4 separate regions of the Homo sapiens genome follow, and regions 1, 2 and 4 are each linked to region 3. The links come from fine-mapping of genetic effects on gene expression. A gene starts in region 3. Each other region holds a variant in brackets. All regions are shown on one strand. Distances are between the middles of the regions.

What was found.
Region 1: its variant is fine-mapped to the expression of HAR1A in prefrontal cortex (GTEx, PIP 0.91).
Region 2: its variant is fine-mapped to the expression of HAR1A in cerebellum (GTEx, PIP 0.96).
Region 4: its variant is fine-mapped to the expression of HAR1A in whole blood (INTERVAL, PIP above 0.99).

What each region holds. Positions count from the first base shown.
Region 1 is chr20:64,028,570-64,036,619 of GRCh38, forward strand. PRPF6 (pre-mRNA processing factor 6) reads left to right here. Exons shown (of 21, transcript NM_012469.4): 19 at 808-922; 20 at 3,349-3,475; 21 at 4,272-4,531. The coding sequence ends at 4,424. It overlaps C20orf204 (chromosome 20 open reading frame 204), which reads left to right and starts at 7,613. Exons shown (of 4, transcript NM_001387010.1): 1 at 7,613-7,757. The coding sequence starts at 7,755. RefSeq lists enhancers at 6,776-7,005, 7,893-8,050, 7,956-8,050. The variant A/G (reference allele first, on the strand shown) is at 3,618.
Region 2 is chr20:63,415,561-63,423,610 of GRCh38, forward strand. It overlaps KCNQ2 (potassium voltage-gated channel subfamily Q member 2), which reads right to left. Exons shown (of 17, transcript NM_172107.4): 12 at 4,059-4,112. Among named protein-coding and RNA genes, the nearest start is that of KCNQ2-AS1, 29 kb to the right of the region's middle. RefSeq lists an enhancer at 1,996-2,643. The variant C/A (reference allele first, on the strand shown) is at 3,311.
Region 3 is chr20:63,097,071-63,105,120 of GRCh38, forward strand. It overlaps HAR1A (highly accelerated region 1A), which reads left to right and starts at 4,222. Exons shown (of 2, transcript NR_003244.2): 1 at 4,222-6,184; 2 at 6,485-7,316. It overlaps HAR1B (highly accelerated region 1B), which reads right to left and starts at 5,249. Exons shown (of 3, transcript NR_152601.1): 1 at 5,045-5,249. RefSeq lists a silencer at 5,298-5,687.
Region 4 is chr20:63,052,860-63,060,909 of GRCh38, forward strand. LINC01056 (long intergenic non-protein coding RNA 1056) reads left to right here. Exons shown (of 6, transcript NR_033369.1): 5 at 46-407; 6 at 653-1,004. Among named protein-coding and RNA genes, the nearest start is that of LINC01056, 19 kb to the left of the region's middle. RefSeq lists a silencer at 3,583-3,783 and enhancers at 6,743-7,585, 7,586-8,050. The variant TACTC/T (reference allele first, on the strand shown) is at 4,957.

The sequences.
Region 1 (8,050 bases), 930 kb after region 3:
GTAAGGGGGTGCCCCGACTCCGGTAAGGGGGTGCCCTGACTCCGGTAAGGGGGTGCCTTGACTCCGGTAAGGGGGTGCTTCCTGGCTTCCCAGACTCCGCAGGGCTGGCACTTCCTGAGGGAGTGGGGGCTCAGGCTTCAGACGGACTTTATTAAAATGTGTAGTTTGTGTGAATCATTTCAGTCAAAAGTTTCAGCTATACTCGGCCGTTAAGACAACTTAATGAAATTCTTGGCCTCAAAATGGGAGAATTTGATTTCATTTCTGAAGTGTTATCATTTCTTTTTCTTTTAAAATTTAAAAGAAATTGGCCAGGTGTGGTGGCTCATGCCTGTAATCTCAGCACTTTGAGAGACTGAGGCGGGAGGATTGCTTGAGTCCAGGAGTCCATTGCTTGAGACCAGCCTGGCCAACATGGTGAAACCCCGTCTCTACTAAAATACAAAAATGAGCTGGGCATGGTGGCGGGCGCCTGTAATCCCAGCTACTCGGGAGGCTGAGGCAGGAGAATTGCTTGAGCCCGGGAGTGGGAGGTTGCAGTGAGCTGAGATTGCGCCATTGCACTCCACCCTGAATGACAGAGTGAGACTCTGCAGGGTGTCCAGTCTGTGCCCTCAGGGCTGCCATGGTTTTGGGTGGGCCAGAGTGCTCATCCTTTGTGGTTCTCCTTGCACAAGTTCTGCGAGCCGTGTGTGGGAGGCCCCTGTCGTGGTCTGAGGACGTCCCGGGTTAGAATCTGTAGGCTGGGCACCTTTCCGGAACCAGAGGCTGGAGTGCAAATCTTTGTTCTTTGTTTCTGAATTATAGGTATCCTGTGGTCTGAGGCCATCTTCCTCGAGGCAAGGCCCCAGAGGAGGACCAAGAGCGTGGATGCCCTGAAGAAGTGTGAGCATGACCCCCATGTGCTCCTGGCCGTGGCCAAGTGAGTGGGGCCCCCACAGGATTGCTGAACCTCGGGGTCCTAATGGGCTCTTTTTCCAGAGTCTGTCTGCCTCTTCCTGGTCATTGTAAAGATGCCCGGCAGCAGGGTGGGCTTCCCCGATCCTCGGCTGCCGTCGCTCCTGCTGTGGTCTGGGGCAGGCGCCTCTCCTGGCAGACACACCTGAGGGTGCCGTGGTCAGAGACTCACTGGGGACGCATGTGATTCACACTGGTGCGCTGGCCGCCGGGTCACAGACTCACTGGGGACGCGTGTGATTCACACTGGTGCGCTGGCCGCCAGGTCAGAGACTCACCGGGGACGCATGTGATTCACACTGGTGCTCTGGTCGCCGGGTCAGAGACTCACTGGGGACGCATGTGATTCACACTGGTGCGCTGGCCGCCGGGTCAGAGACTCACTGGGGACACATGTGATTCACACTGGTGTGCTGGCCGCCGGGTCAGAGACTCACTGGGGACGCGTGTGATTCACACTGGTGCGCTGGCCGCTGGGTCAGAGACTCACTGGGGACGTGACTCTGGAACCTTGCAGGCAGCAGCGGGTAGCCATGGGGCAGAGCATGCAGACTCTAGGCACATGTGGGCAAAGACCCGCCAGGTGTGGGGCACAGCAGGGAGCTCAGGGCCATCCCCGACCCCCAGGGTCCCTGTTTCCTTCTAGAAAGAGGATGACAGTCTGGGAAGGAGCTGGGCCTGAGTGTGGGTCAGGAGGCTGGGAAGTGACCATGTGGGGTGAAGGGAGTTCTTGGAAGAACCCTGGGTTCCTGAGGCTGCAGCTCAGGACGTGGGCTCACCTGGCAGAGGTGGCGTGTCTGGCCCCAGGAGCTCTCCTGTGTCCGGCTTCCCCTCCACCTGCCCCGCCATGGGTCATGCAGAGACAACAGCCTTCCTAGTGCTGGCTTTTGATTCTCTCCATCCCTTCTCCCCAGCACTGGGTGGCAGTGGTGCTTGGTCTCCAGAGGTCTGGGTGCCGCCCCCACAGGCTTGCCTGTAGGGGCACCTCCTCTCCCCTGCCCGCAGGCCCCCGACAGATGAGAGAGGCTCCCCACAGGGAGGCTTGTGTCTGCCTGGTGCTACCTTGGTCCTGCCCTGTGCGTTCACCTCCCAGAGTGACTTCTGGGTGACACTCTGATAGTGCAGCCATAAAACCTTATAAAAGGCTTTGCTAAAGTAAATAAGTCACTCCTTGCTATTCCCAAGCCAGTGTTTTGTGTGTCTGCTATCTGGGTTTGTGCTCTTTAAATCACAGTTTATCTAACACCGGGCAATTAAGAATACCACAAGGCTTAAAAAACAATCAGGTTATCAGAGTGTGAAATTATTCCGTTTGGCAACTGAGACGAACCCGAACAGCTGCCCGGAGTGGAGGCTCCTCGTGTTGTCTCTTGACTACGGTGCCTCTGGCTCCAGGGGGAGGTGACCCTGAGGAGAGGGTGGCAGCAACGCAGAGTCCCGGGCCTGCCAGCATGCTCAGCAGCCAGCGCCCGCCATCCCTTCTCCAGCAGCGGGTGGGGGTGCCATGCACACCCTTACCTGGCCTCTCATAGCATGGACCTCTTCGGGCCCGGTTTTTCAGGTGTGCATGTGTCTGGCAGGCACGGCGGTGTGAATCCAGTGGCCTGAGGGCTGTGGGCTGCAGGCCCAGGCCCTTGTGCTGCCTGGAGCCCATCTTCTCAGTGTTCACTGGGGTTGCTGCTGGAGGCCGGGTGGGGCAGGATGATCCAGCAGGTGTCTCAGTGAGGAGCTGAAACTGTATAACTTTCCCTCATCAAAGTTGCAGTTTAATTTTGTGTCAGGTTTAGTTTCATCTCCTTGTATCTGACCCTAATTTTACGGAGTTGGAAGATCTTTCCCTGCGTGTGAATTTTTTAAGAAACAGTTTGGGACAGGTGCGGTGGCTCATGCCTATAATCCCAGCACTGGGAGGCTGAGGCAGGTGGATCATGAGGTCAGGAGTTTGAGACCACCCTGACCAACACAGTGAAACCCCATCTCTACTAAAAATACAAAAATTAGCCGGGTGTGGTGGCGCATGCCTGTAATCCCAGCTACTCAGGAGGCTGAGGCAGGAGAATCGCTTGAACCTGGGAGGCAGAGCTTGCAGTGAGTCGAGATCGCGCCACTGCACTCCAGCCTGGGCGACAGAGCGAGACTCCTTCTCAAAAAAAAAAAAAAAAAAACAACAAAAAAAAACCAATTTGGTTAGACCCGTGAAGGGCAGCTTCAAGTTAATGATCTGGGGTAATTATTTCTGGATCAGCCGAGGCCCTGATCCTCAGGCCTTCTTGAGGGGAGCACCAGGGCTGCGGGTCAGGGATGAAGCTGATGGCCCTGAAGCCGTTCCCCTGCCCCAGAATACCGTCCTGCAGCCACTCACTCTGGGTTCACGTCCTTCTGCTGGAACAGGCTGTTTTGGAGTCAGCGGAAGATCACCAAGGCCAGGGAGTGGTTCCACCGCACTGTGAAGATTGACTCGGACCTGGGGGATGCCTGGGCCTTCTTCTACAAGTTTGAGCTGCAGCATGGCACTGAGGTGAGGCCCCTCGACAGACCGCCGCTCAGTGCCTTCTGGGACTGTGGCGGGGAGTTCCGCCAGCCCTGGGGGCTCTAGGAGGTGGCCACGGCCAGCGTGACTCTGCCCGGGGTCGGGAGGATGGACCGGGTGTGTGGGGCAC[A/G]GAATCCTCGACACCTCCCCACAAGGCAGTCTCTGCCTCCACATCCGTTTTCTGGTTATAGCCTCACAGCTCCACACCCTGGAATTGAGGCACCCTGTCCGTTAGGGTGGCCTGTCTGCTGGAGTATTTTAACGAGTTATTTGCTGGCTGGAGCCTGGGCTCACTTTAGGAATGGGAATGGAGTTGGCCTTTTTCTTGGGCCTGAGCCTGAGTGTGGCTTTCTAGGACAGCCTGGGCAGCAGCCCCTCTGCTCCCACCCGCCCCGCTAGAGCCAAGCGTTGTCTGAGCTGTGCTGGAGGCAGTCAGGCTGTCCTGGTCCTCCCTGGAAAGTGTTGCCAGCCCACGTGAACCCTAACTCCTTGTTTGGAGAAGGCAGACGTGAGCACTTGTGTGAGGCACAGACATGGGGAGCCTGGCTCAGTTCCTCATCTGTGGGCTGAGGCTGGTGGGGTCCATGCTCCTCAGGAGGTGGGGCTCCTTTGAGGAACACACCTGAAAGAGCCTTGCCTTCCGGTGCAGGGCCTGTGCCCTCTGGCCCGCCAGTTGGGGTTGGTGCTGCCAGGGCCAGGTCTGCAGGGGCCAGGCGAGAAGCAGGCGAGGTCCGGGGAGTAGCGTGGGAGGACCCCTGCCTGACGTGCCCTGTGGTCCCCCCAGGAGCAGCAGGAGGAGGTGAGGAAGCGCTGTGAGAGTGCAGAGCCTCGGCATGGGGAGCTGTGGTGCGCCGTGTCCAAGGACATCGCCAACTGGCAGAAGAAGATCGGGGACATCCTTAGGCTGGTGGCCGGCCGCATCAAGAACACCTTCTGATTGAGCGGTTGCCATGGCCGGTCTCCGTGGGGCAGGGTTGGGCCGCATGTGGAAGGGCTCTGAGCTGTGTCCTCCTTCATTAAAAGTTTTTATGTCTCGTGTCAGAACAGGCAGCCTGCTGGTTTTCTCTGGGGCCCTTCTCTGGCTCCTGCTTCTGCTGCCCCAGTCTGGCCTGTCCTGGCCTGTCCCATGCCGTCCTGGGGTGGCTGTGATCGCCCTTGCTTGGACAGAAGCCTCTTGCAGACAGCCGGTGTCTCACAGAGGAGGCACTGTGGAGGTGCCCGGGTTCCCCAAGACTGTGGAGAAGGTGGTAGGGGTGCAGATGTTCTGGCCAAAAGCCCTGTGAGGACAGCTGGAGACAGTGGGGACCAAGCTGCATGCAGGACGCAGGTGCTCGCAGGAGCCTGGCAGCCGCCTGCAAGGGTCTTGGTCAGGGGACAGCTGGGGCCTCCCTGGGGTCTGAGTGCAAACAGGAGAACCCAGCTCTGCGCAGGGCCTCTCCACACAGCCTCCCGGGCCCCTCAGGCATGTGCTGAGTGACAGTGTCACCAGTAAGAGGCGTTCTTTCTTTTGGAGGTGAGTTCATTTTTTTATTTTTGAGACAGTCTCGCTCTGTCGCCCAGGCTGGAGTGCAGTGGCACGATCTCGGCTCACTGCAACCTCTGCCTCCTGGGTTCAAGCAATTCTCCTGTCTCAGCCTCCCGAGTAGCTGGGACTACAGGCGCCCGCTGCCAAACTCCTGACCTCAGGTGATCCATCTGCCTCAGCTTCCCAAAGTGCTGGGATTACAGGCGTGAGCCACCGCACCCGGCCGTGAGTTTATCTTTGCTAATTTATCATTCGCAGTTTAACCCTAAAGCCCTTGTAATGGTTCTCATCTCCAGGTTGAACAGTGATGGTTCTCATCTCTAGGTTGAACGTTGATCACCCGAGAGACTTGGCTTCTCTTCAGCCTTAGCTGTGTAAGGATAAAGGACGTCCTCAGGCCTGGGATCATGTGTGTGCATTCAGTTGGGAGCCAGCTGGTTCTTGTGTAGGCCGGGGCTAGAGACATCTGGCTGGAGGTCATGGCTGGCCCAGAGGGTGTGGGTGGACAGTCGTTGAGGCCAGCGGGCGGGGAGGAGGGCGCTGTCATGTGGGCTGAGGAGGCTGCTGGAGAGCAGCTGTCCCTGGATGTTCCTTGTGAGAGGGGAGCCCTGGAGGGTCCCGGCCTGTCTTGTGGTACCGATGGCAGGGCCTGTGGTGGTGGTCAGTCACTGACCCACAGCTCTGCCCACCTGCACATGGGGGCCTGTGCTAGGCCTTGTGGTCTGCCTGCCCTGCTCCTGACGAGTGAGAATGGCTGGGGTGGGAGATCCCTGCCTGCACGTGGGGCGGTCCTGGTAGACCAGAATGTGGGTGTGGGTCCCCCTTCCCTGTGGTTCTGGGGACCTTGAGGACATGGTCAATCCCGGGCAAGGGACCTGCCACCCCTGTATGGGGTCAGGAACTGCTGGTTGGTCTCTGCTGGGCAGGCAACCTGGGGTCCAGCTCAAATCGTTGGAATGTGGAAGTCCTTCCTCTCGCCCCGTCCTGAGGAGCAGCTGCAGGAGCTTCATGAGTGTTTTCACTGGAACTTGTGGAGGAGTTTCCTTTGATCCCTCATGGAGAGACGGAAGCATGAGGGAGCCCTCAACATTTATTCTGAAGATGAAGAGAGTCCTGCAGCTTTTTGGAGTTTGTGAAGTCAGCCCGGCCCTGTACAGATGTGGAAACCGAGGCCCAGGAAGTTTGTGAGCCAGCCCGGCCCTGTACAGGTGTGGAAACCGAGGCCCAGGAAGTTTGTGAGCCAGCCCGGCCCTGTACAGATGTGGAAACCGAGGCCCAGGAAGTTTGTGAGCCAGCCTGGCCCTGTACAGATGTGGAAACCGAGGCGTAGGAAGGAAGCCCTTCTCTGACCTCAGAGCTGAAATGGCCAGTGCTGGGTGGGCATTGAGGGGTCACACAGAAAAGAATGTTTCAGGCCATGTTCAGGGGATACTTCCTGCAGGGCCCTTGGAAAGTTCCGGAGCGCTTACATTGTCCATGTGTGAGTGTCTCCTCTTTCTTGCCTGTGTGGGGTTTTCTCAAATGCTTTGAGTTGGCCAAACCACAGTTGTGCGCCACTTAACAGTGCGGATACATTCTGAGAAAAACCTCGTTAGGTGATGTCGTCTTGCAAACATTAAAGAGTGCATTTACACAAGGCTGGCAGGCACGGCCTCCTGCACCCCCAGGCTGTGTGCCCGGGTGCCAGAGCCTGGGGCTCCTGGGCTGCAGACCTGCACAGCCTGTCACAGCATTTAATCACATCCAAACACGGAAAAGGCAAAAACGTAAAGATGCAGTGTTACAATCCTAGGGGACTCCTGTCACCTGTGTGGTCTGTTCTTGACTATTGTGAGTCACTGACTTTTCCCCCTGGGAAACTACCTTAACTTGTCTTCAACTGAAATTTTTTCAGCCTGCAAAGATGAGTTGTGCCTCAGAGGTTGCTCGTGTTCTGAGGTGCCTCTTCACCACTGCCTGTCAGGCTGCTAACCAGAGTGCCCCAGACCACAGCAGAAGCGACAGCAGCCAAGGATCGGGGGAGCCCACCCTGCTCCTGGGTATCTTTACGGCAGGCAGCAGAGTAACAGCCTCAGACTTACCTCTTCAGCCAGAGACCCCTCAGCCCAGGAGGAGTGAGGCCGGGCCAGCAGCGGGGGCCCGGGAAGCCCCATGTCTTGGGACCTGCTGGGGCAGGGCCCCCTGGATGTCAGGCTGCAGGTCCGGCAGCTGGGGAGGGGATGAGGGCCTCCCACCAGCTCTGCCCATCAGCCAGATCCCTGGGAGAGGCAGCACTTGCTGGCCACAGAGTCGGCCCCAGTCTCACCTGGCTCCCCTCCCCCACCAGCTGGGCCCTGCACTGCCCCAGCCCACGCGGCGCCTCACCCCTCCTTGACAGAACAGTATCTCTGGGACGGACAAGTTAATCCAAGACCCACAGTAGCCCTGGATCCCCTGGGAGAGGTGGCTGCCCAGCTCCAGGGCCAGGTTAATTGAAGTGATAGGGAGTGGAGAGAGGGAGGGGGCAGGGCTGGGATTGCGTGGCCTTTCCTTCCCTCTCCTGCTCCCTCCCTCAGCTTGGAGGAGCCAACTTCAAAAGCCTCCGCCTGGCCTGCCCCTCTGCAGTCCTCCAGGCAGCCTGTCCAGGGAAGCGGTTGGCTGGTGTTGGACCTGGTGCGGCAGTGCACACCCTGCCCAAGGACCCCAGGATCATGTGCGTGGCCTGCTGGCGGGAGTGAGGGAGGGCAAGACCCTGAAAGGCCCATGGTGAGCAGCTGTGGGCCTCCTCTAGGGAGGGGGCTTACTTGGGTGGAGGGGCTGGGGGTACACACAGCTCAGGAGACACTGCTTGTTCCCCTGAGCCCCACCAGGAAATCTCCGGTTGGCTCTGGTCACTGCGTCCCTGTGGGTGGCACTGGGTGCATGTGCCCTGGCTTCTGGCAGTTGGGGGAGGGGGGCTCCTGGGTGCCGGGCAACCCTGTTCTAAGCTGGGCTGAGGCTTGAGCCTGGAAGTGGTACTAACAGGCCAGTTGGGACTCCCAGGGCAGCCAGTCTGCCCC
Region 2 (8,050 bases), 320 kb after region 3:
GGGAGGGGAGGCTGGGTGGGCAGCAAGCTCCCCCGGCTGGCTCAGGCGTGGCCAGAGGTTGGCCATGTGGGGAGAGTTGATGTCTGTGGACTCTTAAATCACTTTCCGCTACCACCACGAGGTGCCGGAGCCTTCCTCACACTGTCCTGCCAGCCCCTCACCCAGTGACACTCAGGGCAACGGGCATCCCAAACACCGGGGCTGTGGCTCTTCCTCGGGCACCTCTGTCTGCCCCGGCCCCGCCCGTGGTTTCCCCTGTGGCCTTTTCACACCCGTAACTGCTCCCAGGAAGCAGCCTCCCTCCTCCCCTCCCACGGCCTGTCCCTCTCCTTCTGCCCCAGAGTCGAGGGGCCAGGGGACAACAAGGACATTGGGGGCCAAGTCTGCGGTGGACCCTTGTTCAGCCACACTCCGGCCTTTCCACCCACCCCGGGGGCCTGCCTGGTGGGATGGGCTTCAGGAGGGCTCAGGCCTCCCCTGTCAGGCTCCCCTCCCACCAGGTCCGTGTCAGAGAACTGCTCCTTCCGGCTTCTGGAAGGAAGGAATGGATAACGGGGCTCCTCCGCCAGCTGGGCCTCACTATCCAAGTCCTGCCCCAGGGCAGGGGGAGGCAGCCTCCAAAGCCACAGCGCTGTGGCCCGGCCCCCTCGGCCTGCGAGGCGTGAAGCAGGATTTGCAGCTGTGTCTGGCTGGGTCTCCAGCTCCATACTCTCGGGGGGTCCTTGGGCCTGCCTTGCCCCCGAGTTTTTTGGTGACCGTGGAGATGGGTTTGCACCCGAGTTCTTCAACTCCAGCGTCCGCCGGGCGACAGTGAGGGGAGGGGAGGGTTCACTGTGGTTGGTGGTTGGGAGACGCCAGGCAGATGTGGCCTCCTGAGGTCTGGAAAGCATCAGAACCCCCTGGCTCCCTTGAGGACAGTGGGGCTCTCACGAACTGGGGACCCGCTCATGCCCAGCCATGCTTAGCAGCCACGGAACTTCTCAGGGTGGTTCTGGGCAGGGCCCAGAGCACTGTTGCTGGAGCCTGAAACAAGCCTTCGGGTGGGGAGGCCCCGCAGATCCCTGACACACTTCAGAGAGGAAGCCCAGTGCCTCACGGGCTCCCTGATCCCACGGCGGCTCCCCAGCCAACAGCGAGGGACTGAGGCCCCGGTCAGCAGCCACCATCAGCCCCGACTCCAGACCCACAGCCAGAGAGACACGCCCACCAGACGGCACAGAGATAACCAGCCACAGACATGAGAGCCCACCGCGCCCGTCTGCCTGGCCTGGACACGCGGATCGCTTGGCTGCCCCTCCCCACCCCATCCCCCAGGCAGCAGGTGACCGCCCAGACCATCTGTGCCCACTCAGCAGACCATCTGTCCCCACTCAGGCGTCTCTGAGAGAAAGAAAGAAGCCCCTGGGTGTTGTGCCCGCTCGGGGAAGCAGAGACGGAGTGGCCGAGATCCCCCGAGTCCCGAGGCGTCGCGTGCTTGGGGACGTCAGGAGCCGATGGTACAGGCTCGCTCAGGACCCCAGTCCTGAGTCCACACCCCTGCACTGCCTGAGGCCAACACACCGTGCCCATGGGGGCCAGGGGTGCTCAGAGTCCTGGTGCTGTGGGTGCCTCTGTCCCAACGGCCTCTGGTCCCCATCCCAACAACAAAAGCACAGGTGGTCGGGGAGAACCGGACGGGGGCCAGGGGAGCACATGGGCACAGGCTCAGCGGGACTCCTGGAATGTTCTCTCTTTCTCCACCGCACGAGCCATTTCAAAGGCAAGAATAGGCCCCTCCTGACCCCGCTCAGGCAGGCCTCAGGGCAAGTGGGAGTCACTGGAAGACTCAATTCCTCTCTCTGCGTTTCCACCCGAGGCAGGTCCAGTCACCAGAGAGAGAAGCAGCCACCTCCTTTCTCACGGCAGCTGGCAAAGCACCGGGTGGAGGACAGAGCCGGTCGGCCCAACTGTAGCTTCGGGGCTGCCCTTGGCTGGTCTCTGGGCAGAGCCCGGTGCTGAGGGCTTGCAGTGGGAAAGGCACAGCTTGAGGAATGGGCATCAGATTCCCACCTGCGGCCCCGGAGGGGAACGGGTCAAATACCCAGGCGGCCACACAGACGTGCGGGCCAGGAAGGGTCAGGCCCCACAGTCCGCAGGGAGTTGCAGGAAGGGAGTGGCGTGGATTCCACAGGCCCCAGGAGAGAAGACCCAGCCCCGACGTCTGCTTCCCATTTTTCAGGGGGGACCCCCCGCTGACCACGACAAGGAGCCACAGCCCCGCCAGCGGCAGACACACCCTGCTGGACCCGATGCCCAGCACAGCCCCAGGGGCCGCCGGGACGCAGCCCACGTGTACTGCCCCAGACAGAGCCGGCGGGAAGGAGCCTGCCCTGGCCTCGGCGCGGCCCTGCTGTCCCGGGTCTCGGGCTCCGCTCCCACCTCAGATCTGCGAGGGAGGCTCTGCCAGGAAGAGGAGGGTGGCGCGACCTGGACATGTCCTTCCCTCCCCTGGACCTCCACCATGACCCAAACTCTGCACCCTCCAAGCACAGCTGGTGAGGCTCCATGCTGCAGACACCCGACCCCGCCAGCCTGCCTCAGCTGCCAGGAGCACGCGTGGTCTCGCAGGCCCTCCCTCGGCCACAAGCCAAGAACAAGCGCACGCGAAAAGCTGCCGCCACCCACCTGGGAGGAGCCCTCGGCCAGAGCTGCCCTCTGTGTGCGAGGGGCGTCCGTGGCACCTACGCTTGGGGCTTACGGGGCCGGGGCAGGCTCAAGAAGCACCTGAGAGCGCGCCATCCCCACCCGGCCTGCCACCCTCCCTCCCAATGGTGAAATTCAGATGTGCGGTGCCCGCAGGAAACAGGAGGCTGAGGAGCATCCAGACCCCTGCCCAGCTGGTGTCCGGACCAACGACGCCCAGGAAGCGTGAGGATGAAGGGGCCTCCCGTGGGGGCTGCTCGCAGCAGGACAGGGCCTGCCCTGGGTTGTTCTCTGGCCTGGGCTCCCACCCCCACTTTCAAACCCCTCTGGTCCCCAAGCAGCCTGACCTCAGCCCCTGCCCTGAGGGACCAGCCTGCGGCCAGAAGCACCCTGAATAGATGCTCCGGACACGCAGGACAGCTGCTAGCGCCCCAGCAGGCCATGCCCCAGGCAGCCCACACGCCCGTCTCCCTCTCTGGAGCTGCCAACAGTCTCCCCGCAAGCACCAACGCCCCCAGAAGCACACAAGCAGCAAAGTCACAGGGAGAGGGTGGCATGGAGTCGCGGGCCCCCCATGGAGCAGGGTCCGAAGCATGCACGGATGCAGATAGGCAGCATGCAGCCCCAC[C/A]AGCCCTCCAAGGCCAGCACCACCGGCGGCATGCACATGCCAAGGAGAGCCCCACAGGAGCACGACACAGCCACCTCCACCTTGCTGGGCTGTGCTGGCCAGGAGGGAGGGGCCCCCAGCGCAGGCCTGCACACACCCAACAGCAGACAGGGGACGCGGGGACAGGGGAGGTGCGGGTCACGGTGCAGGCCAGGAGCCCACGGTGCAAAGGGGGCGGCTCCTCCCCCGTCCTATTTCCACCTGCCCTAAACCAGGCCTGTTGTTGGGAGAGGGAGCCGCGGGCCTCTGGCTTTCTGGGGCTTCTGATGCATCAGGACCCTGAGGAGCCCGGCACACACAGACGGAGCTGCCTCCCGCGGTCGAGGCAGCCAGGAAGGCTCAGTCATCCTCAGGTACGCAGCAGAGGTGCTAGAGTGACAGCCCCAGGGGAAACGCTCCCTGAAGAGCAGTCGGGGACCCCAGGAGGCACGGACGCCTTGCTGGGTTCAGAGCCCCTGGCTGGCCCCTCTGGCTGTGCGCAGGACATCGCCTGGCGTGGGGAGCAAGAAGAAGCACCTTCCCCCAGCTCCGCCCTGCACGCAGCTGTCGGCTAGAATAGAGGGAGCTGAGCCCGCACCGCCAGGGCGGTGGGTCAGAATTGGGGTTGGGGCGCCAGCCTCCCCCTGGCTCCTCCAGAACCTCTAGTAAGCAGGGAGGGGCAGAGGAGCCGTGCAGCAGCCGTCAGTCCGTGCGGCGTGTTCCGCGGTACCTAGAGCGTCCGGGGCAGCATCCACACAGGGGCCCTCTGCACGGGCTGCCTTTACTGGAAATGAGGAGAGCACAGTTAGTCCTGGGCGCCGGCAACAGCACACGGCCGGGAGCAGGGAAACTGAGGCACTGCAACCACCCAGGGTGTTGTGTGCAGTCCCCAGCGGCAGAGCTTGCGCCCAAGCAAGGCCAGCGAGGAAGGTGCACCATCGTCTCCACCGTCCGGAGAAGAAAACACTTCCCTATTTCTGAAGGAAAAAAATCCCTGTTTTTTTTTTCCTCCAAAAATACCTTTTCCTTCCAAAGCCACAGTTTGGGTTCATGTCTTAAAAGATGTATTATTTTTTGCAGTATTCATGCTGACAAAACAATAATACATGTGGCCTCAGACGCCGCAGAAGCCCTGCTTGGGAAGGACGTGACCCCGGGAAAGGGCGTGGGTGTGAAGCACACACATTTGAGAGAGGAAAACGTGCAGTTGTCCCGCTTTGCAAACCAATCGGCGACGTTTGGCCATGCCAGCCAGTCCCCCAGTTGGAGGTGGGTCTCGGTTTACCCAGGAGGCGTGGCTGCCACTGCAGGCATGGCTATCTGGGGGTTCAAGGGCTCCCCTGAGGACAGTCACGTTGGGGCTCAGTGGATCCCCTCATTGTGAAGCCCTTCAGGAGCGCAGCTCCCCGCCGGGGCGTTCCTTAGAAAAGGCTCAGAAAACACGGAACGTTTTCCCAAGAATCTCCCCAAAAACCCTGGCGATTTAGCTCTGCATCACAATGTGCAAATGATTAAGCAAAAAATGAAACCAATCACCAAGAACTCAAGAACTCTTCCTTTTCCCCACCCCAGCCACCCCCAACCTCCTTGCCACTGCTTCCTGAGACAGCACTTCTCAAACTCGGTGCCCCAGGAACCCCAGCGTGGCGACGGCATCCACTCAGAACACACAGGCTCTAGGAAGAAAGCACCCAGCCTCCCGTCTTCCTGCGCACACGTGTGTTTAGACACCGATGTCCCTGCACGCACCCGCAGGCAGCTCTCCGAGCGGCGTCACAGACACGGCTAGCTCCAGTCACGGCAGCACTCAGCCGCCCGGGTAGGCTGAGGGCTCTGGACCCTTCCCCAAGCCCCACCAGCCTGCAAGACTCCAAGGGCGGGTGGCCGGCTTCCACCCCAGCCCCCGTGCCGGTCCGGCTTTTTAGTACACAAGCGACTTTGGGGTCCCCAGGCACGAAGGGATGTAGTGCAAAGGCTGGACTCTGTTTGCTGGTTAACCACGAACGCGACGGTGGGACGAGGCAGGAGGGAGCCGGCTCCCTGCGCCTGGCTTGAGGTTCTGGCTGCTCAGAGTCTCTCCCGCTGTGACCACCCCAGCTACGATGACACCCAGGCCTTCCTGGCAGGCAAAGACCTCAGACTCCCACCAGCACCACCCAGGCCCAAGCACAGAGCCCCTGCCTGGAGGGCCCCAGGAGACCTTCCCCACCCCAGGGAAAGAGCATGAAGGAGGCAGGGTCCCGCTTCCCCAAACCTCCCAAGGTCTCCTGTTTTGACCCCAGCATGATCGCCTTGACCAAGAGGCCCCTCCCGGGCCGGCCCTGCCGCCCGATTCTGCAATGGGATCGTCCTGTAGCCACACTGAAGCTCCGGCTGTCGCCACCAGGCACCTGAGACTCGAGAGTGAATCTCTAACCGTGCCCGTTATAATCCATGTTATTTTAACAGCCACATGTGGCTGGCAGCTCCTGTATGGGGCAACGTGGTCTGAGAGCCGGGGAGAGCTGGCAGGGAGGCGCTGCAGGCACAGCCCCCCAAGACCCCCAAAGCTTTGTGGGGGACCCGTGCAGCTGCACCTCCCCCTGGGGTCCGCAGCTGGCACTGGGCTTCCTTCCTGCCCCATCAGCCACAGGGAGCTCCACACTGCGTGAGAAGGCCCTGTGACCCGAGGTCGGACAGGCGGACAGGCCCACAGTGAGCTCGAGACCCACAGACACTGACCGAGACCCGACAGGACAGACATGCACCAAAAACACGCGGACACGTGTGCTTGAGAAGAGGAGGGGGAGCCCGAACAGGCACGGGGGAGCCCGCACAGGCATGAGGGGGCAGCCGGTGTTGGGGGCTCCTCCTCCAGCACGGGGGCAGGAGGCAGTGAGATGGGGTGTCGGACAAGACAGCACAAGTCAGAACCGCCGTGGCCAAAGAGACCCCCCGGGACCCCCCTGGGGCAGCACGGCCCGAGCCCCGCAGCCTGCCTGGCTCCCCACCCGACCCCAACGTAGACGCTTCCTCTGACTCCAGCACAGCCCCAGTGGTCCCTACGGGAACCGAGCCCCCGCCAGCCGGGTCGCCTGCCACCACGTGCCTGTGTTCTGAGCCAGGATGGGGGTGGGGGTCTCAGCAGTGAGTGAGGGTCCCTGTGTCCACACCATCCACCTGCCAAGACCAGCTGACACCAGCGGGGTCCTGCCATGCGGGGTGCGGGCTCCACCTCCAAAGGGCAGGCGGAGGCACAGGTCCCACCAGACTCACAGAGCCCAGGTCAGGCAGCAGAGGGGCGCCAGGAGCCGAGCTCCCCATCAAGCTTCGCAGAGCAGGCCCCTCACCCAGCAGCCCAGGGACGTGGCAGGCAATGATTGCGGAACAACTTCCTAAGCACGACCCTACACTGGACAGGCTGCGGCTGCCCCAGGCCAGGGAACAGAGATGCCACCCCGTGACCTGCCAGGTGAGCACCCCAGGATGGGCGGGGAGGGTCTTCAAGGGCAGAGACTGCTCCTCACTCCCACCGCACCCCAGGCACCTTCCAGAAGCCCCAGACCCAGCAGCCCCACGTCCCCCACCACAGGCGTCCCAGGAGGAGGGCCGGGGCGGGTGGGTGCTCGCCCGTGGGGGAGGGCGTGGGAGGCACAGGCAAGGACCCCCCGGACACATGGGGAAGAGACGGGGGAGGGGTGGGGAGCCACAGAGCTTACCGGAGAGCCCGGAGGCTCCCGCGTGTCCTCACCTGGAGTTCGCCTTCAGGGCCAGCACCTCATCCCCAAAGAGAGGGCAGACGAGAGAGGGGCCCGAGAAGGGCAGTAACAGGGATTAAAGCACTTGGGGGCAGCGGGTGTCCAGATGGGTGGAGTGGAGGGTGGGAGGGAGAGAGAGAAAGAGAGAGGCTGAGACGAGAACGTGGAGCGGGCCGGGCTGGGGCAGCGAGCACGAGGGGCCGTGAGGCACGGGGCGGGTTCCGGCGTCGCTCCCAGCAAGGGCGTGGGGCCCTGCCACGCGGAAGCCGTCGGGAAGCCTCGCGTCCACCTGGGACAGCACCGAGGTTCCGCCCAAATCACAGCCAAGGGTGCCCATTGTGGGGGGCACAGTGCTCATCCCCACAGCCACTCCCAGCCTCAGGGCCAGCAGCAGGGGCGGGGGAGGCAGTGGCAGCACTGGGGGCTGGCACCAGCAGAGGCTACGCTGCCGACCCAGCTCTTTCTGGGCCCTCGTCCGTTTTCTTAGCCTCTTTGAGAGGATGAATGAGCCCCTGGTGGTTTTCTTGGTTGGTGTGGGCCGGAAGCATTGCCCGTCTTTCCAGCTCAAGGCACTGACCATGACTCCCCTTCTGTGGGATGTGGGGTGGCTGGAAAAATGCAGCTCAGCCCCACTCCATCTCCCCGCACCCAAGCCCCGCAGTGTCTCGCCAGCTGTCACCCGCAGTCCAGGAGGGGCAGCCAGGCGTCCATCTCGGACCCCAGGTCCAAGGGGCCAGATTTACTCTGCAACATGTGGATGGGGCACAGGGGGCCCAGAGAAGCCTAGCACCTCCTCAGGGTGATGTGTCGGGGGCTGGGGCTCAGCAGACGTAGAATTAACTTGTGAAAGGATCTTGATTTTCTCTGTCTCCATCCTTCACCCCAGCAGAGCCCTTACACGAGTCCTGTCTCCAATCTGCCCGACCCACAGAACCTCGGGGCCCGGGAGAGGGAACCAGGCTAAGCACCTGCACCCTTGGCCCAC
Region 3 (8,050 bases):
TGGCACTGGCGTGAGGTCTGACACTTGCCAAATTCCTGCGAGCTGACCCCTCGATGGGGCTTGCACTCTAATTCTGCCCCAGGGAAGCCCAAGGTCAGGATTAGCATCCCCCCTGCTTAAGGGACAGCTGAGGCCAGGGTGGGGCTGGGGTGGAATGGCGGGCTGCATGCAGGAAGCCCATGGAGCCCAGATCTGCTCCAGGTCACAACCCTGTACCTGGCTTGGGGTCCACACTCCCCAGACACAGATGGTGGCATGTTCCCCTCGGACTGTCCACCTGTTGTTCGGCCAAGCCCTGACCCTCACAGCAGGCTGCTGAGTTCAAGGATGCCCCTGGGCAGCCAGGCTGGGACCCTTGCCCACTCCCTGGACGCACATCCGCCCGCCGCTGGGTTCACAGGGGAGGGATTAGAAACCTCTCAACGGAACGTCGACGAGGCGAGTGGGGTGGGGATGGGGGTGGGAAGGGGACAGGCCCTCCCCCACACGTGGGGAGATGCATGGCTGTGAGGTGCTGCCTCCGCCTCTGAGGCTGGCGATAGGCTGGATTCAGACACAGCTCGAGCCGCTCACCCTCCACGTCCTGCTTAGGAGGAGTGCGGGGCCGGCTAAATCCCCAATGCCCAGGGCCCAGGGGCATCCCATCCATAGCCTCAAGGTCCCTGGCTTCCCCTGGGGATGGGGCTGTCGCACCTGTGTCCTCCCAGTTCCGAGGTACCATTGATACACACACAGGGGTCCCTGGGGGAGTTTCCTAACTCCTCTTCCTCTGAAGGCCAGGCCTGGGAGAATGAATTCTCCAAGCACCCACCCTCACTGTACCACGGCAGGTTAGAGAATGCGGACAGAGCTGCTTGGCTGCACACCTTGGGGGGGCGTCACCCTCTTTTTAGCCTCAGTTTCCCCATCTGTGCAGTGGGTACCAGAGAGGACTTTACACAGAGGCTGTGCATTCCCTTTTTTTTAATTTTTTTTTTTTGAGTCAGAGTCTCGCTCTGTCGCCCAAGTTGGAGTGCAGTGGCGCGATCTCGGCTCACTACAACCTCCGCCTCCTGGGTTCCAGCGATTCTCCTGCCTCAGCCTCCTGAGTAGCTGGGATTACAGGCGCACATCACCATGCCCGGCTAATTTTTTGTATTTTTAGTAGAGACAGGGTTTCCCCATGTTGGCCAGGCTGGTCTCGAACTCCTGACTTCATGATCCACCTGCCTTGGCCTCCCAGAGTGCTGGGATTACAGGCATGAGCGACCGTGCCCTGACTGAGGCTGTGCATTCCCTAACAGAGGGGGACGTCTGGCTGCCCCCACAAAACAGCAGCTCTGAGCATGTCTAAGGTCAGCCCCTCCCTGCTTTCCTTTTCTCCCTGATCAAATTCATGTGGCTTCCACTCAGCCCCTTCTTCCGGCTCTTACTTAGGAATGCAGATCTACCCCAAACCCCAACACACACTGGAACCCTCAAGGTCCCATCCTACTGAAAGCCAGGTAGCCGGTGCAGTGAGCAATGGACAGATGGATGGATGATGGATGGTGGATGGATGATGGGTAGATGGAGGAATGCATGATGGATGAATGAATGAATAGATTAATGGATGAATTGAGTAGATAGATGAATTGATGGATGGATGATGGATGGATAAATGAATGGATGATGGATGAATAGATTAATAGATGAATGAATGAGTGGATGGATGGATAGATGGGTGAATGCATGGATGGATCATGGATGATGGATGGATGACAGATGCATGGAAGGATAGATGAATGAAAGAATGGGTGAATGGATTAATAGATGAATGAATGAGTGGGTGGATGGATAGATGGGTGAATGCATGGATGGAACATGGATGATGGATGGATGACAGATGCATGGAAGGATAGATGAATGAAAGAATGGGTGAATGGATTAATAGATGAATGAATGAGTGGGTGGATGGATAGATGGGTGAATGCATGGATGGATCATGGATGATGGATGGATGACAGATGCATGGAAGGATAGATGAATGAATGAATGGGTGAATGAATTAATGGATGGATGAATGGATGACAGGCTCTCCATGAGCCGCTCTGCTCTCCTCCATGGCCTCCTGCTCACTGGCCCCTATATCTCACATCCTACTTCCAGTTTAATGGAGACAAGAGTGTCCTCCCCAACCCAAGTTCTCACCCCCATCCCTTCCTCCCTCAGACCCACCTGGAAGAGCTGCTTCTCTTCTCTTGTAGAAGTCTCCCATCCCAAGGAGGTGCCTGGTCTTTCCCCTCAGGAAGGCACCTGGTCCTTCTTCCTCCCTTCCCTCCTGGGAGACATCTGGCCCTTCACCTCCCCCTGCCCCTTCACCTCCTATCAAGGCAGCTCCCTCAGTATTTTCTGCAGACCTTGTTTGTCTCCTGTGACGTTCATACCCTCCCGTTCCCACAGACATTCTTCCATGTCCAGCCCAGACAGAAGGAGGTCCCCCCCTGCCGGATGGATGATTGAGGCTGCCTGTGTGTACACGTATGACTGAGCAATGGACGGAGGTGTCTGTGTGCAGCAGGCATGTGGCACGACCTCGGAAGAGGGAACAAGACAAGATGTCCCCCAAGGTGCCCATGAGGACCCTCCCTGGGCAGCTGGACTCCAGCCCACCTTGGGCTGCAGTGTGCATTGGGGGTGGGGCCAAAGACCCCTCCACATAGAGAAGGCAGCCAAAGGGAGGAGGGAGTGGTCAGAAAAGGTTGTCTCAGCCAGGGAGCGGCTCCACCCTCTCCTGAGGACGCCTGACCTCAGACGTCAGCTCCCGTTAGAGACCCCCGTATACCCCCTGCCTAGAGCCAAACTCTGAGAGTCTCTGGATGGACTGAGGGGTGGGACAAGGAAAAAAAGGAAGGAGGGAGGGAGAGAAGCAGCAAGGAGGGGTCGCCTGGCCCGGCTCCCCCAGTGAGGAAAGGGGCTGTGGCACAGAGATTCCATCTGCAGGGCTGGGGGCAGCCGAGAATGGCACCTCCAACGCCCACGGCAGGGGCCCACCCGCCTGCCTCCTCCGGGACCACCGGGCCTGGCTCCTCTCACAGACTCTTTGAGAGCGTATTTGTGAAACGTAGCATATTGTGGGTGATTAGATTTAAATTTCAATACACTTTGTTAAAAATAGAGTTGGCTCTCGCCAAGAGGAGGCCGCAGGAAGGGGCTCTCAACGGCTCGTCTTTGGAATATTAATAGTATGGAAATGTTATTAGAATAATTTTTCATCATGAATAATAAATTAATGGAATAATTCGGCAGCGCCACGTGACATACCCTGCTAAGAGGGGCTTTGTTTTAACAGAATGGGGAGGGTGGGTTTGGGGTGTGGGGGAGGGCAGAGCTGGGGGAGGGTCCGCCCAGGGCAGGCGGGGTTGGGTGGAAGTGAGTGAGGTGCCTGAAGAGATGAAGGCTCCGGAGGCATTTGGGGAGGAGGACAGAGACCTGGGACCAAGTCCTCAGGCACTTTTAGCTTCATGTCTCAGCCAGGGTTCTGGCCCTGGCCGGCTCCTTCCCACAGAAAAGCTGGGAAGAGATCTTGGTAGGTGTCCGGCCCCACACACCATCCTGCTGGGGGTGGCTGGGTTGGACTTCACCATCCCCACAGCCCTGCAGCCTCCCCTCCTGCATCTTTCTCCTTGGTAAATGCCAGGAACCTCAAAAGCACCCAGAGGCCCAGAGAAATTGAGCACACAGGGGTGGGGAATTCAAGAGCAGGAGCTGTTTCTAGGGCCCCAGGGGCAGGGCCAGGGTCTCCTGGTCATTTCTGTGCTCGGGACCCCTGCTGCACCTGAGCTCACTGTGGAAACTGCCTGAGGGGGCCACACGGAGCTGATGGGGACAAGCATGCAGGGTGGGCACCCTTGTGGGCTCAGCTTGGTCCAGGGTGTCCACTGGGGGACGGGGAGGGAGATGGAGCACCAGGGAAGAAGCGTCTCTTCATGTGGTCAGCGCCCCCTCCTTCTCCCCACTCCCTCCTTTTGCCTCCCTTCCTGCTGCTGCCTGCACGGTGAGAACAGAGATGAGATGGCCCCTGCCCGGGAGCAGTCAGCGGCACCACAACCCTCCCAGGCCAACCCAGCTCCTGACAGAGAGGGAGGGAGGCAGCCTGGGGCTGGGGGCCCTGGCAGCAGTGGCACACGGAGTGTGCACATGGATCCTAGTCAGCCTTTTGCAGGGCGCTGAAGCCAGTGGGGGCCCCCAGGGAGGTTTTGGGGGAGTGTTGAGGGGGCCTGAAGGGTTCCGCTCCTCCCACCCAGGGAACCGCCATGCCACTAGTGGGCTGTCCTGGAGACTCGGGGAGAAAGCACACAGGCTGTCGGGAAAGGTGGGTCGCAGGCGGGCAGGGCAGCCCTGCTGTACTGATGGGCAGGCGCTGGGTGGGTGGAAGGCAAAGCCATCAGGTCATCCCCCTCTCTGTCCCTGCATTGGGCCAACCAGGTGTGTCAGGAGGATATTTGACCATTCCTGAGAGGCACATTCTCTCTCTCTCTCTCTCTCTCCCTCTCTCTCTCTCCCTCTCTCTCTCCCTCTCTCCCTCTCTCTCCCTCTCTCTCCCTCTCTCTCCCTCTCCCTCTCTCTCTCCCTCTCCCTCTCTCCCCCCTCCCTCTCCCTCCCTCTCCCCCTCTCCCTCTCCCTCTCTCCCCCTCCCTCTCTCTCCCTCTCTCTCCCTCTCTCTCCCCCTCTCTCTCCCTCCTCTCTCTGTCACACACATTTGCACATCCTGCAGTGTGAATGGAGTATGAATGTGTGTGGTAGGCGACAGCTGTGTGTGTACGTCCGGGTGCGTGTGTGCGTGTGTACATGTGAGCGTGTGTGCACGTGAGTTAGAGCCTGAGTGTCCCCTGCGTGGGTTAGTGTGTGCGCCCGCCCGGTGCCCTCCGTCTTGGGAGTCTGGGCTGCTGCTCCGCGGGCTCTGGAGCCGGCGCTCCCCACGAGCCCGGACTCTCCGCCGCGCCCGGGAGCTGCGCAATCGGCTGCTAAGACGCCGGCGCCACCGGCTGGGCCCTGTTCTCCCCTCTCTTTTCTACAGTCTTACCCGCAGCTGACAGGGTTCGAAAGAGCATGAAACGGAGGAGACGTTACAGCAACGTGTCAGCTGAAATGATGGGCGTAGACGCACGTCAGCGGCGGAAATGGTTTCTATCAAAATGAAAGTGTTTAGAGATTTTCCTCAAGTTTCAAATGAGGCGAATCCCGTTTTCCGCGATGCTGCAGCGCGCGGGTTTTAACCGCAGGGTCACGCGGAACGCCGCGCCGCGCGACTGTGCCTCGGTCTCTGCGCCCGGCTCTCCCTCCGGTCCGCAAGAGGAGGAAGGCCCGCGGCGTGCCGAGGTCAGCGGCGCGGAGCCACCAGGCGAGACGGTCACGGACGCCTGAACCGAGGTCACCGAGGCCACGGGGCCGGGAGGCCCTCAGCAGAGCCCGGGGGCTCCGCACCTCAAGGCCGGCCAGGAAGAAACAGCAGCAGGAGCCCAGGGCGCCCCGGGGAGCCCCCGACACGCGGGCCGAGCGCCCAGAGCGGCCCAGGCCCTCGCGAGGAGACCGGCCTCCCCAGGGCGGGGCTTCCGACTCGGGCGCCCGTGAGCCCCGGAGGCGGCGCGAAGGGGCAGAGTCCGCGTTTCTAACCAGCCCCCGGGTGGGCGGTGGCCCGCGCGGCACGGTGGGCGCGAGCGCCGTGGGCTGGGGCCGGCCTGGGCTTTCAGGGCGAGGGCTTTCCGCGCCGGCCCCAGCCCACCCGGCCCCGCTGCGCGCCCCTCACGCTGCAGCCTGGGAACCTGGGCCGGGAGCTGCGGGCCGCTCCGGGGAAGCGGGCCTGACCTCCCCTCCCCACCGCCGCCCCTGCGGTGAGATCCTGCCTGCCGGGGCGCAGGGGCCCGCGGTTGGGCTCCGGGAGACGGAAGAGGCCCCACAGCTCGGGCCCCACGCAGTGGACGCTGCCACTTAATTTTGGCGTAATTGATGTCAAGGCGGGTGCCCGGGCCCCCAGTGAAATGCCTCATGAACTCGCTGCGAGGAACGGCGCTCCACGCGGTGCACGGTGGCCAATCAGAGCTGCCGCTTCTGATGGAGGCTGAGCCGGCTGGGGAGGCGTCTTGGCCAAGAACCAGCCCCAGCCTCGCTCAGGGCCCCAACCCGCAGACCATGTAATTAAGCTGCGTTCTGCAGCCAGGGCAAGGTGCGGAGGGGCCTGTTTCTAGCATTGGGGAGGAGGAAGTGGGGAGGAGGGAGCGGGGAGGAAGGAGTGGGGAGGAGGGAGCGGGGAGGAAGGAGGAGTGGGGAGGAGGGAGCGGGGAGGAGGGAGCGGGGAGGAAGGAGTGGGGAGGAGGGAGCGGGGAGGAAGGAGGAGTGGGGAGGAGGGAGCGGGGAGGAAGGAGGAAGGAGCGGGGAGCAGAGGAGCAGAGCGGGAGGGAGGATCGTCGTGCAGGGGGCCTTTGTGGATGAGGCTGGGATGTCCCTGCCCCTCCGTTCCCTCCAGAGTCTCAGCTCTGAACATCTTCCCGCACCTCTGAGGAGCCAGGCCTGGAAACCCTCTAAAATAGATTTTTCTGCCTCAAGACAGAAGATGGGCGTTCCAGGCAGAGAAGAGCTGCCCAGTCACGTGCTCTGCTCCACCTGGTCAGAGACCCTTGACCTTTAGAAGACTGGACCTGAGGGCGTGGCTGGTGGACCTGAGGGCGTGGATGGTGGACCTGGCCACCCAGCTGTAGCTTTTTGGGTTCCTGTGGTCCCATTTCTTGGGTCAATCTCACACCTGGCAGCTCCCAGGAAGACACCCCCAGGCCCCTCACACTCCTGGGGGCAGCTGGAATTGGCTTCAGGGCGGGACCAGGGGCCCCATGGGTGTTTGGAATCCCTGATCTGGGTCAGGCACCGGCAGCAGGATTCCAGCCTGGCCTGGACTCTGGTGTGTCCCGTTTGAAGAAACCCCGCCCTGTGAAAGTTCAAGTTTAGCATCCAATGACCCATTTAAGAGGTTTGCTGAGCCACGTCACAGGAGGGTCTGGGTGCAAACGGAGGTGGCAACACACAGAGCGAGCCTTGAGCACCCAGGTTACCCCCAGGACCTCCAGTCTGGCTTGGGGGCTCCTGCTGTCCTGTGGAGCAGCCCCCTGGGATCAGGGACGGGGCTGAGCTGGAGAGTGTGCAGGATTGATTAATGATGTCTGCCACGGTCAGGCCAACTGCTGTGTTTCTGGGGCCCACAAGCTAAAAATGGTTGGAAAAAAATCAAAACATTAATATTTGTGACATATGAGAATGCTATGAAAGTCAACTTTGCTATCCATAAATAAAGTTTTATTGACATAGCCATGCTCACTCTTTCTCATATTGTCCATGGCTGCTCGTGTGTCCAGGCACATACCAGGAGGCTACAGACGGAGCTGGATTCTTTCCGGCCCTTTGCTGGAGGCATTGCTGACCCCTGCTCTGAGGCTCCCCATGGCTCTCAGGATCCAGACCCCAGGCTTCCCAGGACATTGGGGGCCAATGGCTCCCTGAGTGCCCTCCTCCCCAGCTCTTCTCCCACCCCTGCCCCCCCAGGAGCCCTCACCATGTGCCACTCACTGCCCACGCAATCTGACCTGTGAAGGGCAGACAGAGGAGCAAGCCTGCCTGAAAAGGAGGACTCTGACTTTGCCACTCCGCTGCCCTGCCTGGCCCCACTGTGGTGTTACCAGGAAAGGCCATGGCAGAGGGACATGCCCACGAGCTGCCCTGGGGGAGAGCGGCTGGGGCAGGGAGGGCAGCACTGCCCTCAGAAAGCCCCGCGGTGGTGCCCCTACCTCCCCTGGGTTCCAGGAGTGTGGACAGACCCTGCTGGGAGCAGATGGCACTTCTGCAGCTGAGGCCTGCTGGACGCTGGGCCATGCCGGGGACTTGAGCCTGGGGCCACACGCTCCTCCTGGCCGATGTCACCACTCCTCTTCCAACAGTCTTGGCCCCGGGGTGGGCCTGCTCCCCGCCCACTCTCTGTGTGGACGGATCATTGCTGCCGCCCTCTGTTCCTCCCTCCCAGGACTCAGAAGAGGGGCCTGGTGTG
Region 4 (8,050 bases), 44 kb before region 3:
GTTTTCCAGGATGATGCCTATCAGAAACCCTAATTGTTTTTTCAGAAACGGCTAATTAATTAGGCTCAGCCTCTTGAAAGGCACTTAAAATACTAACGACTTGCTAAAAAAGGGCAGGACTTGAAAGCAAAGCCAAGGTCCAAAGTGCCCACCAGCGTGAGGGGTCTGCTGCCTCCCTGCGGGGAAGCCCTGGCAGAGCCCCTTGCTTTGCTGCTCACAGAGTCCAGGACATGAGAGCCGAGCCCATGCACCAGTGACTCACGCCCCGGCACAGATGAGCCCAGAGCCCGGAACAGAGGCCGTAGCAAGACCCCGGGAGCCCAGCCTCCCCTACCCCTCCAGCCCCGCTCTGGGCCCCAGGAGGCTGACCTCCATGGATGTCCCAGCAATCTGTCTCTGGCCTCTGGGTGGGTGTGGCCAATGGAGTCATCCGGGACACGGAGGTGGGAAGGGACTGGGCCCTCCTTATCAGGTCTGAGGGTCAGGGGCCCTACATCTGCTTGTCCCTGTTCTCAGCGCCAGGCTCACCTCATCCCCTGCCCCTTGTCAGAGCTCCTTCTTTGACCCTCCCCAGGGGTCCAGCTCACTTGTTTGTTAGTGACCTCATCACAGACAAGTTCTCAGCCCTCCCATGGGGCGGTCGGTCCTTCAGGCACTGGAAATACAGCGGTGGACACAGTGGTGGACCTCCCGGTATGTCCTCTGTTCGACTGAACAGTCGGGTTGCGGGGCCTCCAGGAGCTCTGTGAGCCCGTGCTCAGGTGCACACAACAGAAGTACTCCGCTGACGCCCACCCCTTTCACTCAGCTCTCGGTTCAGTCATCGCCAAGCAACTGAGAGCCTTTGTGAAGAGGCTTCCTGCCCTCTTCATCTTCCACAGACACGCTCTTCTTCCTTAAGCCCAGGCATACACAGACACAGTGAATGCACACACAAAGACACACACCAGTGTGCACACTGCTCTGGAATCCACAGGTTCTATAAATATCTAGAAATGATATCTGAAAGTGCATTGTTATATGCGCTGGTCTGTGATGGTTACGGTGATGGTGATTCCTCCTTCCGGAGGATGGCGCGGCTGCAGCCAGAGGGAGATTAGGTGGCGGAGGCTTCGATGACCATTTACATTTTACGAGTACTTATTTTGAGTGTGTATTTGGAAAAATTAAATTTGTATATCAAGCCCATGATTTCACAGATATTTTTGCTTAGGTCAAAGGCTAAAACAGGTATTTAAATCAATTCGTTTATTTAACTTAAAGAAAAATATGACGGGTTAAGGTTGGGCTTCCCCAGAAGTAGATCCCGAAGCAGGAATGGGAGGTGTCCCAGCGTGGCGGCGAGTTACTTCAAACTGGGTGGCTTTAAGTAACGAGGATTCATTCCATCTCCGTTCTGGAGCTGGACATCTGAAAGCAAGCTCTGGGCAGGGCTGGCTCCTGTGGAGGCTCTGGGAGGGGGTGTGGTTTCTTCCTGGTCCCTTCCAGCTTCTGGTGGCTCCAGGCCTTCCTTGGTGTCCCCGGCTTGCAGCCGCATCACTCCAATCTCTGCCTCTGTTTTCCGTGGCGTTTTTCTCCAAATCTACCTGTCTCAGCTTCTCCATCTCTTATGAGGGCACCCTTCATGGGATTTGAGGCCCACTCTAATCCATGATCCTTACCCTAATTACATCTGCAAAGACCTTATTCCAAATAAGGCCACATTCTGTGGTTATGGGTGGACATATTTGGGGGCCCTGTTCATCCTACTTAAGGAGGGAAAGTTGTTTATTTTGGAGGTGACTCTGAGAGCACAGCAGCAGGTGAGTGGGAGGTGAGATGCCCAGTGACCAGGGCGGCCATCAGGCAGGCCACGGCCAGGCTTCTGGGCTCAGCCTCACCAGGTCCTCAGCTGCCCAGGGCTTTCTCACCCAGGACCTGCCTGGAGACTGCTCCGGGGCCATCAAGTCCCCGGCATGTCAGCCCACCCTGGCCAGAAACAGCCTGGTCAAGGGGCACAGGGCTGTGGAGTTGGGGTGCCCAGGAAGGGGAGAACCAGCGGGGTCCATGGGCCAGGAGAGTCCAGCCTTGAAGATGGGGGTGTGAACCACACAGTCACGGTCTCAAAGGCACAGAGCTTTGAAAGCAAGGTAGTAGCTCCTCAAGCCCTCTGGGCACGCCCCACCAGGGTTTGTGTGTGGAGTTAATAGGGGGCAGTTCCAGGAGCACACCAGAGGGGCCGGGGCAGCCGGAGGGGCCAGGGCAGTGGAGGGCTGGGCAGCTGGGGCCCAACCCCAGTGGGGACTGAGAGGCCTCGTGACTGCTGCCTCAGATCCACCTCTGAAGGGCGGGAAGCCTGGGCTCTCCCTGTCCCCCACAAACCAGGGCTGGGGTGTAGCTGGGGGGTGTGGAGTGAGGCTGGTGAGAGGTGCCCGACGGGAGAAGGGCCCCGGTCCAGCAGCTTTCCCTGATCAACCAAGGGGGATCTATTTTGTTTGTAAAAAGCTGATTATCATAGATAAATGTGTCTAATTAGTCTCATTTGCTGACACACAAGCCTTTAATTGCAAGTTGAATAATTAGACATATCTGCATATGTAAATGATACAGTTATACCCTATGTCAGTCTTTAACGTGATTCCTCCAGAGACAAATAATTCTATTTCAGGAGAGAATATGATATATTAATTTACATAGACAAACAACTTTATTTAGAACCAGCAACTCTCGTGTTTGTTTACATAAAGTAATAACTCGAGAAATGGGAAAGATCGATGTTGCAGCAACATCTGGAGGCTCCTAACCTGCAGGGGAGTCCCTGGCAGCCTCCCACGGGAGCTGGGTCTTCCTCCGCCCTCCTGGGGCCCCAGTCCTCCCACGTGGACAGCAGCTCTGGGCCTGGGGGTGGGCTGGGGCCCAGGCCATGGGGTCTCCCTCCCCTCTTCCCCCTCCACCCTCCCTCATGCCATGCTTCCTCCTCTGCCCCTTGTCCTCGCTGGGTGGCAGGATGGGTGAGATGCCCGGTGGCCCTGCAGGCCTGCAGCTGGCCCAGTGCATGTGGGTGTCCCCTCTCCATGGCTGTGCCCTGCATGCTGGCAGAGCTGCCAGGGGCAGCTTGGAGCAGGAGCAGCTGGAGCTTGGGTCCTGATTCAGGCAGTGCTACAGCCGGCTCCCTGCCAGGCCCTGGGTCAGCTGCCCACCTCCCCAGTGGGTGTCATGCTCAGCAGCCTCAGGACAGGGCTGGGGGGCTGGCTGGTGCCGCCTGCCTCTGTCAGGCCCCCGGCCTCCACTCTGGCTGAGTACATCGTCTCCTCTCTGAGCTGGGCAGGGCAGCCACTGGCGACCCCTGGCATCCTCCGGGTCTGACTGGCGGGGACAGGGCTGCGAAAGCATTTGGAGGCCTGACCTGGAAGGAGGAATGAGGGGCCAGCTGAGGGCGTCCCAGGCAGAGCCAGGCTTGCGATGCCCAGGGTGCCCGGGGCACAGAGTGGCCCGGCCGCTCCCACACCCCTTCCCCCTTCCCTGGGCCCGTGGTCACATGGGTTTCGCTGGGAGGCAGAGCGTGAGGAATTTGGCTCTGGTGGAATGAGGACGGCTGCACTCCCTGCTTTGCAGAGGGCCCGCACAGCAGCCCGTCACTGTGGCAACCGGCTCCGTGATGCTGGCAGGAGCTGACATCGTCCCAATTCGCCCCTGTGGTCCCTTTTGGTCCCCCTCCCCTCGACCGCCAGGAGCCGCTGTGGATCGAGTTGGCCAGCAGAGGGCAGCAGAGGGCTGGCGGGGCTGGCGGGGCTGGCGGGGCTGGCGGGGCTGGCAGTGGACGCCACACTTTGGGGTCTCCAGGCCCCCAAGTCTTCTGGGGAAAGCAGCAGACAGGCGACAGCCACAGGGATGGGGAGGCGCCATCACTACTGCAACCACTGGGGGTAGCCCTTGGCCCGTCTGGGGGCATTTCATCTTTGGCAGAGCTGAGGGGTCCAGCACGTGGGCCTCTAAGGAGGGGTCTCCCGCCCACCGCCCCCAGTGCTACTGTGACCGCGGCGGCTCGGCCCCGCCTGCACTCCCAGGTTCTCACTCATGCAGTCACTCACTCATTCGCTCGCTCATTCACTCGCTCATTCACTCATTCATTCACTCGCTCATTCACTCATTCACTCATTCACACACACTCATTTGTTCACTCATTCCTTCACTCAATCATTTACACACTCATTTGTTCACTCATTCATTCACATACTTATTTGTTCACTTATTCATTCCTTCATTCACTCATTCATTCACACATACTCATTTGTTCACTCATTTCCTTATTCACTCATTCACACATGCACTCATTTGTTCACTCCTTTTTTCATTCATTCATTCACACACACTCATTTGTTCACTCATTCATTCACTTATTCACATACACTCACGCATTTGTTCAGTCACTCATTCCTTCATTCACTCACTCATTCACACACACTCATTTGTTCACTCACCCATTCACACACACTCATTTGTACACTCACACACAATCATTTGTTTACTCACTCATTCACATTCACTCATTCATGCACACACTTACTGATTCATGCACACACTTATTTGTTCACTCACTCTTGTTCACTCATTCATTTCTTTCACTCATTCACTCACACACATTCACTCATTCATGGACACACTGATTCATACACACAGTTGTTCACTCACTCATTGCTTCATTCACTCGTTCACTCACATTCATTCACACATTCATTTGATCAGTCATTCATTCATGCAATCATTTGTTCACTCATTCCTTCACTCATTCATTCACACACTCATTTGTTCACTCCTTTCTTCACTCATTCATTCACACACTCATTTGTTCACTCATTCCTTCACTCAATCATTCACACACTCATTTGTTCACTCACTCATTCCTTCATTCACTCATTCACACACTCATTTGTTCACTCGCTAATTCAATCATTCATTCACACACACTCATTTGTT[TACTC/T]ACTCATTTGTTCACCCACTCATTCCTTTAGTCACTCATTCATTCACACACTCACTTGTTTGCTCACTCATTCCTTCACACACATGCACTCACTTGTTCACTCACTCATCCACACACATTCATTAATTTATTTACACACACTCACTCACTCATTTGTTTACTCAGTCACTCCTTTGTACACAGGGAAAGAGTAAGGTACCTTTCCCTCCTGTTCAGCTGCTGCCAGAAGCAGTGTCCAGTTCTCCTGGTCTAAGCAGGACTCAAGGTCCTGCAGCAGCTCAGCAGCCCCTGGAGCTGCAGCGTCTCCTTTGTTCTCTCTGAAGGGGGCATGCCTTGGCCCCAACATTCTTGTCCTTCATTTTTTGAAGTTTCTTCCCCCTCTCTCCTGGCTAATCTCATATCTTAACTACCAATATAAGACAAAATATTTCTGTGACTTTCTTTCCAATTCAATAAATCCATCTGGTGAGAAGAGAAAAAAATGCAAGAAGAGAAGAGGCAATGCCGCACCCCAAACCCTGTCAGTCACTCACACTGAGGACATTTTCACGAGGCGTTAATGGGTGATGTTTGAATTCTGGTTGCCAGCACAGATCAGGGCAAAGCTCTTGTAAAACTCTATTAAAGTCTGTGGATCCAGCTGAGACACAGGGCTGGGAAACAAAGTTAACTGTTCTCCCTCCTGAGCGGCTTGTGGTTCAGGAAACACCCCCAAGCCCCTGCCTTGGGGGATCTGTGGGTGAGAGGGAAGCATATTTGGATACAGCTTCAAGAGAGAGGTCCGACTGCTCTGTGTGTACACGTGTGTGTGGATTGCCCTGTGTGCACCAGCTCTGTGAGTGCCTGCATGGGAGTGTGTACACACCTGTGCTCTGTGTGCATCCTCAAACACACCACACCAACAGGGGTCTGGCATTGCCTCCCTACGGTGCTCATGGTGAAGTCCTCGGACTCCAAGCCCCTCTTCTGCGCCAGCAGTGACCAGGCTGTGGTCAGCATGGCCTGTTGGTGGCCTTTGACTTCCTCTGTTGGCAGATGGCTTGAGGCCCCCCAGTTCAGGGCCACAGGTGACTTCCCCCTTTCCCAGGTGGTGGGGCCCTGTAGGCTTGACCAGCCCCAGGCTCCAGAGCGCACAGAGGTGGCTGTCCACAGAGCGCGGGAGGCATGGGAGGGTGTGCTGCTGCCTGCTGGTCATCCAGCTCCTCGCCCATTAAGGAGCCCGCTTTCCCCTTTGGGAGGCCACAGGGGCTGGCGAAGGCCCTTCAGCTGTGGCTCAGGTGGGCTGGGCACCACTGCAGGAGAAGCCTCCTCCAGATGGGAGGAGGTAGGAGGTGCCTCCTCCAGATGGGAGGAGGTAGGAGGTGCCTCCTCCAGGATCAACCCCAGCTCCTTAGCACCAGCGAACAGACACAGTAGACACACGCAGGAACAAGCACATGTCCCAGGCTGCACCGTCTGTGTCTTTCCCTTTTTGGGGTCCTTGCATTTCACCCTTACCTGGTTCTGGATTCAGCTTTTAAGGGCACACTGATTGGCAGCCAGGCCACTGTGAGCGCTGGCTCCAAATGTCCTTTTGTTTTGTTTTGTTTTGTTTTGTTTTTTGAGATGGAATCTCTGTCTGTCATCCAGCCTGGAGTGCAGTGGTATGATCTTCGCTCACCTCAACCTCCGTCTCCCGGTTTGAGTAATTCTCGTGCCTTAGCCTCCCCAGTAGCTGGGATTACAGGTGTGCACCACCATGCCCAGCTAGTTTTTTTGTATTTCTAGTAGAGACGGGTTTTCACCATGTTGGCCAGGCTGCTCTGGAACTCTTGGCCTCAAGTGATCTGCCCACCTCAATCTCCCACAGTGCTGGGATTATAGGTGTGAGCCACTGCGCCCGGCTTCCAAATGTCCTTGACAACGGCCACAGCATAGCCTGCAGCCAAGGGGCGAGGGCTGATCGCGAGGGCCTGTGGTCATTCCTCCACCTTCGGTGCCCTGCCTGGGCACCCCCGTGCAGCTACCACGTGGGGAAGGCACTTGGCCTCTTCCCTCATCTGCAGACTCAGCCAACTTCTGGGGCTCCCTCGGCAGTTGGGGCTAACTCAGTGGGTCAGGTGGACCCCGGCTGTGCGTGCAGCCCCCGAGAGGGTCAGCAGGGGCGCGGAGGCCCCCTTGGCTCTGCTTTGTTCTGCCTGCGGCTCCGGTTGGTTTGTGATATCTTTGATTCCATCTCTTGCCCCCATGTGACCCCATCGTCTGCCTGGCCGGGGGCTCCCTTGTTGGAGTGTGGGGCGAGCCCCCACCCGTGTGGGAAGAGGAGAAGGCCAGGCTCTAAGCCCCACTCAGCTCCTCGTCCTCGGAGGGGTCCTGGCCCTAAGAGGGCTTGTTGGGGTCACGCAAGCTCACAATGGCTGTGGTCCTCAGCAGGTGGGACAATCGGGCTGTTTTCCGATGGTGTTTGGCAGAAAGTGGGAGTCAAAGCTTAGAAAAGCCCTGACAGAAATGGTTCCCTGAGGCTGGCGGGAGAGTGGCACTCGGGATATTAAAACAGCGAAGTCGGTCCTGGCCAATTATCAGCCAGCTGGCCTTGCTCCGGCGCCCAGAGCTCACAGGGTGAGTCACCATCTGCGGCTGAGCATCCCTGTTCAGTGAGGGAGACAGATCCTGTCCTGGTCCCTCCTCCCAGCTGTTTGTGGCCTCCCTCCTCAGGCTGCCTGGGAAGCTGTTTCAGAACCTTCCAGTCCCCTCCTGGCTGGCCCTGGGGCTCTGTGGAAGTCCTGCTTCCCCCAGCAGTGCCTGGCCCTTTGTCCCCGACCCAGGAAAAGGTGAAGTGGGGGTACTTCCTGTGCATGACACGCCCCCTTCCCTTCTCCCAGCCTCCTGCCTCGGGGCTCTGGCAAGAAAGAGGGCCTGAGCTGCAGGAGAAGGGCTTCCTTGAGCAGGAAGAAGCCCTGGCCCAGGGCAGGGTGCCCGGAAGGCGGAAGGATCCCAGCCCAAGCCACAGCCCCACCAGATGGGTGGGGGCCTTCATCACAAGAAAGATCAGAGAGTTGCCCTCTGAAGCCTTCGCAGTGGCCCTGACACAGGCTGCCAGGGATCCGTCAC